2 separate regions of the Homo sapiens genome follow, and region 2 is linked to region 1. Evidence: fine-mapped expression QTL. A gene starts in region 1. The other region holds a variant in brackets. All regions are shown on one strand. Distances are between the middles of the regions.

Region 1 (4,395 bases):
TTTCTTTTTGGTTGTTCTTTTTCTGCACCGCAGAAGGAAATACACTGACTATTCATAGTTCTCAGTCTCAGAATGAGGTTTTGCAGCATCTATACTTTTCAGCATTTCGGTTACATGATGCTTTCTTGCTTTGTGCAAACCTTGTAGGGTACCTGGGAAAAAACATCCACTTGAGGTCATTGCCCTTTACAGCTCTTTACAATTACATCAGTTTTGAAGGAACGCCATTTAAATTTGGTGTCAGTGCTCAGCAAGTGTAAGGACGCAGAGTGGAACAGCAGAATGCTTACAGTCTTTCAAAAACAGTGTGTCCTCTCCTCCCCCGCTGTATTATTTAAATTACCGTTCTCCTCACTTCGGGCAGGGATGTTGGGAATTATGTATAGTGAGGAGATTGACACTGGTTGCCTGGAAGGTAGGGGACGGGCAGGTATGGGTTTGGTGTCCCGTACAGCGATCGCTTTGTGGGTTTAGTACTTGGTGCTGACAAATAATGGAGTGAGATCCGAACATAAAGGCAGGCAGAGATGTTTTGGGGCTGAATCACCGAATACTAGAGTAGGTTTGGGGCTACGTAAAGACTTGCTTGAAAACAACTACCATTTAGTTGCGAATCCCTCCCCTCTTCCCTTTGATTCGATGTTTAAAAAGAATCCCAAATCACAGTTGGACATACTCCTGCCACAGCCTTGGGCAGAAGTCTTCAAAGCATGAAAAGATGTGGTTTGGCGACTTTGAGTTGTCGGGTATTTTTGTGTCCCAGGAGTGTGAGAAAGGGGCTACGTTCCGCGTCTTCCGGAGGCGCACAGCAAGGGAGTCTCCTGGTGTCATCTCGGGCCATTACGGCGCTTAGTCGATCATTAGGTCTGTGGGTGACTGTAGGCAGAGCCGGGAGTTGGGTGCTTGGCGCGGAGGGTGAACTCGCGGGTCTTGAGCTGCAACTAGAAGCTGCTCCTAGCAAGGGGTCGGGTGGAGATGAAAAGACTGTGGGGAAGGGGAGGTGGTTGTATGCCCAGAGATATCCCGGCGTAACTACGGAGTCCAGGCCCAGAGTGGCGGTGTGTGGCGAAGGCGCAGCAGGCCTGCGCCTGTCGGAGGACGGCAGATCTGGACGCGACCGCGCGGGCGTGCCTGGGTCCCGCTTCCTGCCCATCGAGGGCGACTTCCTTCGGGCTCAGCTGTGAGCTCCAGGAACTCTGCAACCTCCCGACGGGCGCCACGCTCCGGCTTGGGCCGGCCCGGGAGTTGGCGGAGCTGCGCGGCCCGGCCGGGCGGCCGGTGAGGCTTTCGAGAGGCACCGGGCTCGCTCAGCGTCCGCGCCTCTCTACCCCGCCGCGCCCCCTCCGCGCCCACGGGCCCATTTTTTCCTAGTCTTCTGCCTCTCTTCCTTCTTCCTCCCTCCCCTCCTCCTCCACACCTTTGTCTTCTTCCTCCTCCCTCCTCCTGCTTCTCCTCCGCAGTTTGGATCCTACGGGCCCCCTACGTGCCGCGCCCTTCGGTCCCCGGAACCGCCCGGGCTGGGGGTGCTGCTGCGCGGTGAGACTTCCGCGGGCGGCGGGCGGAGAGCGGGATTTGACTGCGAAAGCCAAGGGGGCGGGGAAGGGGAAGCCCCGGCCCTCGGGGGCGCGCAGTAAACTGCTGCACACGTGCCCGCGCTCCCGAGGGGGGCGCCCAGTGGGCTCGGGATTTCCTGGCTGCGCCACCGCGCGCCTCGCCCCCGACGCCCGCCACCTGTGCCCTGGGCCGCCTTCCCTGACGCCAGCGGCCGGAGGTCGCGCGCGCCGGGTGCTGCCCAGCAACGAAAGGCCATGCGGGGTTCGTCCCTCAGATGCCGGTGACCTTGATTGAAGTCACCTGCCTTCTCTAGCTTCCAGTCCTTTAAAACGAGGGTTTGGACCCGGTGCCTTCTGAACCCGGTGCTTCACTGAGTGAGCAAGTGAAGGGTGTGTGTGTGTGTTTGGGGTGGGGGCGGGGGCGAGGGGAGGGAGGGGCAGCGTTGCCGGCTCCCCAGAGCCAGGTCCAGGCAGAGGTCGCGCCCAGCACTGACCGTCGGTCCCAATCCGCAGACTCCCGAGGGCGATCCAAACCGCCTAAGCATCCCAAGCGTCCAGCACCCGCGCCTGCGTTCCTGAGTAATCCAGCGCCCTGCAGCGTTTTTCATGCACACGATCAAAATATATCAGACTGCAGAGAGAGGCTGTATTGTAACTGGCCAGCTTATAATACTATAAATAATAATATAAAAGGTAGTTTTATATTTTAACAAATATTGCTCACTGACAGTGTGCCAGGAACCAAAGCCTATTGTTTCATTGAATGTACACACCCCTGGGATTGGAATGAGTAGAAAACATTGTTATGCCCGTTTTACAGATGAAGAAACTGAGACTCCTGACTATCAGTAAGTGGCTGTCAGGATTTAAATCAGGCTTTGTCTGATGTCAAATCCAGTTGGATTTTCTACTCTAATCGGCTTTTCTCATTAACCTTATTAATTGTTTCCCATCATAGACCTTACCCATTTTTAATTGCTTATTCATTGGAAAAGGAGCTTCGTTCGGATTTAAGGTAATCAAAGAAAAAATTTAGTCAGACAAATCTAATGACTTTTTTTCTGTTCCACGCATTTGAAAACAAATCACACCAAGGCCTGCGGATCTGAACGTAAACCTCGTTGTGTAGAAAGAAGGAAACACACCATTTTATTATAATCAACAAACTAAACCGTGTGTAGAGGGAGACAGCCAGGTGATGGAAACTCATTAGGTTCAGAAACCAGATTGTGCGCGCGGTTCTGAGACGTAGCCAAGCGACCTCACGCAAGACCCTCTTTGGGGCTTAGTTTTCTTACCTAAAAAGCCAGGGTTGGAGATCACCCCTCAGGGTGTTAAAAAGACGTGCCAGCCTCGAACCCTCCTGGGTATGGTGGAGGACGAGCGCCACCTAGCGGGCATCCCTCTAGGGTTGTGCGTACTTTTATGGGGAGGTACTGGAATAAGTAGTACACGAAACGGACTGTTTTGCTTCTAGTTTCGTGTACACAGCCTCGCGCTGCCAGAGATCTAACAGCGGAGATGTTTCATTTTAAAAACTCACCCAGGCACGATCAACACCTCCATTGAAGACTCACCTCGCTCCAGGGCCAAGGGGAAGGGACTGGAGCAGGACGCGGGCGTGTTGGGATCGGTTTCAGAACGGAGGCCACAGCAAGCCCCTGGCCCACCTCCTACCCTATCCTGCATTCCACAGCTGCTTGCTGTGAGTATATAACCAGAGCTCTCGCTGGATGATCATTTAGGGCACAGGCATCCCTGTGTGTTTTATTGGCGCCAAAGGAATGTTTTGTTTTGTTTTGTTTTGTTTGTTTTTGTTTTTGTTTTTGAGATGGAGTCTCACTCTTGTCACCCAGGCTGGAGTGCAATGGCGCAATCTCGGCTCACTGCATCCTCCGTCTCCCGGGTTCAAGTGATTCTCCTGCCTCAGCCTCCCGAGTAACCAGGATTACAGGTGCCCGCCACAACGCTTGGCTAATTTTTGTATTTTTAGTAGAGATGGAGTTCCACCGTGTTGGCCAGTCTAGTTTCCAACTCCTGACCTCAGGTGATCCGCCCACCTCAGCCTTCCAAAGTGCTGAGATTACAGCCGTGACCCACCGCACCCGGCTAGGAATGGTTTTTTAGAAACTAATTTATTCATGATAGAAACTGAGGTATTTCACCCTAAAGATCAGAAATTTCCGGCACTGAAAACAAACCTCAGTTTCACTCTCTCACCCAAGCTGGAGTGAAGTGGCACAATCTCGACTCACTGCAACCTCTGCCTCCCGGGTTCAAGCGATTCTCCTGCCTCAGACTCCTGAGTATCTGGGACCACAGGCATGCACCACCACGCCTGGCTAATTTTTGTATTTTTAGTAGAGAAGGGGTTTCACTACATTGGCCAGACTGGTCTCGAACTCCTGACCTCAAGTGATCCGCCCGCCTCAGCCTCCCAAAGTGCTGGGATTACAGCCACCGCGCCTGGAAGGGTTTTATTTTCTTATTTAGGTTGTCTATTTGACAGTGGGTGGATGGCATTTGTATTCGGGGGCTTGAGGAGGAGAGCAGGGGGAGGAGCCAGCTTGAATAGGTAAAGAGAAACATGCTGTGGTCAATTGCTTGTGCTGAGTTTCAGATGCTTGTGAAACAAAATGAAAGTCTTCTGGATTTATTATATATTTTTTTCTCTAAAACACTATTCTGAAAGCCCTTGCAGTGCTAAGCCAAGTTCTCCTTGGGAAATTTCCAGCTAGTTCTTATTTTGTGTTAGGCATTATTCTAGGATCTGTAGTTCAAGGTCTTGTAAACTCCTACTCTCCACAGGCTACATTCTGTTGGAAGAACACCTATAAATAGA
Region 2 (4,395 bases), 88 kb before region 1:
AACATGATTTGTCAAAGGGGGATTTTCAATGAACTGAAAAGCATCTGATTCACTCAATTAAAAAGAATCATTTGCAAAACAAATGAGCAAAATTTAACTAAAGCTTTTAAAAAAGCAAACTACAATTTCTACCCAAGCCATAACATTTTATGATATGTAATACCATTTTCCAGAGTGTATGATAGTATGACAATGCCTGTATTTTTAACTCCTCAGAGAAATGACATTCACACCTGTGTCATCATGGTTTTAAATTAAGCTTGAACTTATTAAATACTCATCTAGTGTGCAAAGCCACATAATGCAAAAATCTTGGTTTGGTCTTTCAGGAAGCACTGCTTCCTAAACAATTACAGAGAAAAAAAAATGTACTACATTTTTAAAGACCTTTGGAAAAGATAATTCTCTTGGTAATGTATGTAGGTATTGATTTAACAACTCTTGTTGTCAGGAAATAATACCTGACCTAAATCTTCCATGGTAAAATCTGAAATCATTTTCTCTTTTTCTGACCTCAAATAAGTTAGAAAACAACGAATCATATAATATTTCACATACATTCATGTGTTGCATAACAATGTTTCTATCAACAACGGGCTACATATATGATGGTGGTCCCATAAGATTATAATGGAGCTTTTATACCGTATTTTTACTGTACCTTTTCTATGCTTAGACAGATAAATACTCACCATTGTGTTATAACTGCCTACAGTATGGGAACATGCTATACAAGTTTGTAGCCTAGGAGCAATAGGCTGTGCCATATAGCTTAGGTGTGTAGTTGGCCATACCATATAGGTTTGTGTAAATACACTCTATGTGATGGTAAATATTAAGTGTCAACTTGATTGGCGTGAAGGATGCAAAGTATTGTTCCTGCATGTGTCAGTGAGGGTGTTGCCAAAGGAGATTAACATTTGAGTCAGTGGACTGGGAGAGGCAGACTCACCCTCAATCTGGGTGGGCACTCTCTAATCAACTGCCAGTATGGCTAGAATAAAGCAGATTTGCTGAGTCTTCCGGCCTCCATCTTTTTCCTGTGCTGGATGCTTCCTGCCCTCGAACATGAAACTCCAAGTTCTGTGGCTTTTGGACTGTTGGACTTACACTGGTGGTTTGCCAGCGGCTCTCAGGTCTTCAGCCACAGACTGAAGGCTGCACTGTTGGCTTCCCTACTTTTGAGGTTTTGGGACTCGGACTGATCCACTACTGGTTTCCTTGCACTTCAACTTGCAGATGGCCTATCGTGGGACTTTACCTTGTGATCATGTGAGTCAATTCTCCTTAATAAACTCCCTTTCATATATACATCTATCCTATTAGTTCTGCCCCTCTACAGAACCCTAATATATACTCTATAACGTTCACACAATGAAACTGCCTAACAATACACTTCTTAGAACATATCCTGTTGTTAAACAACACATGACTATATTTGAAAACCTTTATTAATGTCTCTTTTTCTAAGTCACTGCATTGCAGAACTAGGAACCAAAAACCAGTCATGTACTGAGTTCAGTTTTATAATTTTTCTCTGCTATCTATCATTTGAGACAGGTCTCAAAATTACTAACAAACCCATAATTTTTACCAAGAACCACTCTTCTCCCTAGTACACTCTTTCTCAAAAAAAAAAAATTATATTTCAGAAAAAAAACAAAAATTTAGAAGAGGAAGTTTATAAGAGACAGGAGCAAGAAACAATGCATATAAAATTCCAATGTAGACACTTCTTTCTTCCCTAAAATAGGAGATCATTCAATGAAATGCATCGCTCAAAACCTCTGGGACAGAGCTGAAACTGCAATGCAATATCATAAAATCTGCAGCTGTGTTGCTGTTCTTCATAATCCATGCTGCTTTCCTAGACCACAGGAAGCCAAAACACACACTGTCAGAACTAAACTTACCTTCACAGGAATTGACCAAAGCAGCGGAGCAGTTATAATAGACCACGCATCAAAACAGTTATTGAAAAGATTGTACACACTCTTAGGAATTTTCTACTCAAATAATTTGCTCACTCCAGAAAAGCTGTTTCCAAATATCAAATATTTCTTTGTAGGAATTAAAACTACAGGATAGGCAAATGTCTCAATAAGTCCTCTGTTTGGGCTGCCATAACAAATGGCATAGACTATGGCCTAAACCACAAACATTATTTCTCAAACTTCGGTAAGTAAAGTCCAAGATCAAGGTACTGACGGATTCAGTATCCAGTGAGGGCATTCTTCCTGGTTCGCAGACAG[C/G]CACCTTCTTGCCTATCCTCACATGGCAGAGAGAATTATCTCTCTCATGTCTCTTATGAAGGCATTAATCCCATTCTCTTTTTTAATTAAATAGAGACAAGGGTCTCACTATGTTGGCCAGGTTTGTCCGAAACTCCTGGCCTCAAGCAATCCCCCTGCCTTGGCCTCCCAAAGTGCTGGGACTACAAGCATTAGCCACTGCGCCCTGCCAGATGTCATTCTTAAGGGCTCCACTCTCATGACCTAATTACCTCCCAAAACCCCACCTCCAGACACCATCATTTTGGGGATTAGGTCTTTGACATATAAATTGGGGGTGGTGGGGGGACACAAACATTCTGTCCACAACAGCAAGTAAACTGTACCATACATAAACAAGCAGTAATAACTTACTTTTATTGCCTACCAAGGCAACCAGTGGCTGAGTTTCTGACTCCTCGCTCACTTTCTTCACCACAGTATACCAATCTTCTAAATTCTCAAAGCTTTGATAATTTGTAATATCATATACCAAGAGGACTCCCTGTCACAAAAGAGTTACAAAATATCTGTAATGTATTATTTGGTGAAAAAATCTTAATGAATACTTGCGTAATGCTTCAGATATGTCAAAATGGGTATAAAAATACAAATGTGTAGTGTTTTATATATAAACTTCCATTTAAATTGCTTACTAGCAGATTGATAATACTGAATGTTTTCATTCAAGATAAATCCAGCAACTAAGATGCAATGCAAGCTAAAACATAATGTTATCAAAATTGTAAGTGGTCTTCCAATAAGATATCTGGAATATGCTTGGTAAGTTACAGTAAATATAAGAAAATCATATCAAAGAAGTAGAAAAGGCTACAACATCTACAATCCTACCTCTCACTTTCATGAGGTCAAGCATTTAAACCTTTCAATAAATAATCATCTGCTGCTACTCTTTTTAAATATTTTCAAAAACAGAGATTCCATGATATCCCTTGATAGACAATTTAAGTGTTTAACACAATTTTCTTTAAATGAAATGTCGATTTCCTCTTTTAGTCCACTGTGCATTTGGAGAACTTGAGAGTATCTTTCTTAAACTAACCCTTCATATACTTGAGCAGAGTTAAGTAACTCCTTTACCATCTCCTTTCCAGAGTAAACAAACTCAGTTCCTTAAACTTGCCTCGAAGGGCCTATTTTTCTATCCCTTTAATCATAGTTGTTGATTCTTCCCAGGACACACTACATATAGTTTTTTGACATCCTCTTTAAAATAAGCAATGTAAAACTGGACGTAATACTGTACTAAGAGTCTCAGCAATGCCAAATACAACAGAAGGATTGCTTCCTGCCTCTTATATATCATATTCCTTTTAATTTATCTCATTATTTTGTGTGGGAAGGAGAAGTATATATGCACACAGAAATAACTACCACATTCTTGATTCTCATCCAGTTTGTGGTCAAACACTTAATACAAAGCTCTACATACAGTATAAGCCCGGACCCTAATGGCATTTATGTCGACTTCTTAGGTTGTAACAGTAGTAATCAACTACTTTTGTGCACCTATTGTATACCAGACACACGTCAAGGTCTCCTCATTAATCCTCACACCAATCATGAAAGGCTGGTATTATTATTCCCATTTTAAACAATAAACAGAGGTTAAAATAACCAAGGTCATACTGATAGGTAAGTGATGGAGCCAGTATTTGAACCAAAGACTAAATAATTAAAAACATTTGTCTGTCAACTAAACTCCAAGCATTGTGCTGGATTCCTACGGATTTAAGTTCCAAACCATAAGGAACTCACAGTCTTGCAGCAAAACTAAACACACAAACAAGTATAGAACACAGTAGTCATAACTAGTGAGACACTGGTAAATATTAATCAATTGGCTTGGGGTTCAGGGCCCAGCAGGGGTGACAGTTTGCCGTAATCTTTGCCAATTTTCATGGTGTAAATGCTAGCCTGCGGTCATTTTTAAGCTATCAATGTGATACCACTGAACAGAGTTGGGGAGGTCACCATTATAAAACATTTCCACCATATAGATACAGCAGATGTAAACAACCTTGAGAACACAGATAACAGAAATACATAGTAAAATAATTAGTGATAGAGATTAGGCATATAATACCTTTGTTTTAATATAATG

Alleles and levels. Positions count from the first base shown, and alleles are read on the strand shown. Sizes are in standard deviations (SD) of each study's normalised expression.
For the expression in lymphoblastoid cells of the gene that starts at base 1,660 in region 1, C is the high allele of the variant in region 2 and G is the other (large effect, 1.1 SD a copy in GTEx).

What was found. PIP is the estimated chance that this variant, and not a neighbour inherited with it, causes the effect. A credible set is the group of variants that fine-mapping cannot tell apart.
Region 2: its variant is the best candidate, but not a certain one, in a credible set for the expression of LINC01096 in lymphoblastoid cells (GTEx, PIP 0.82).

Annotation. Positions count from the first base shown.
Region 1 is chr4:13,546,165-13,550,559 of GRCh38, forward strand. LINC01096 (long intergenic non-protein coding RNA 1096) reads right to left here and starts at 1,660. Exons shown (of 1, transcript NR_015450.1): 1 at 1-1,660. It also overlaps a transcript of NKX3-2 not described here. RefSeq lists enhancers at 470-970, 971-1,471, 2,841-3,135 and silencers at 1,187-1,306, 1,497-1,796.
Region 2 is chr4:13,458,054-13,462,448 of GRCh38, forward strand. RAB28 (RAB28, member RAS oncogene family) reads right to left here. Exons shown (of 7, transcript NM_001017979.3): 4 at 2,646-2,775. Among named protein-coding and RNA genes, the nearest start is that of RAB28, 24 kb to the right of the region's middle. The variant C/G (reference allele first, on the strand shown) is at 2,253.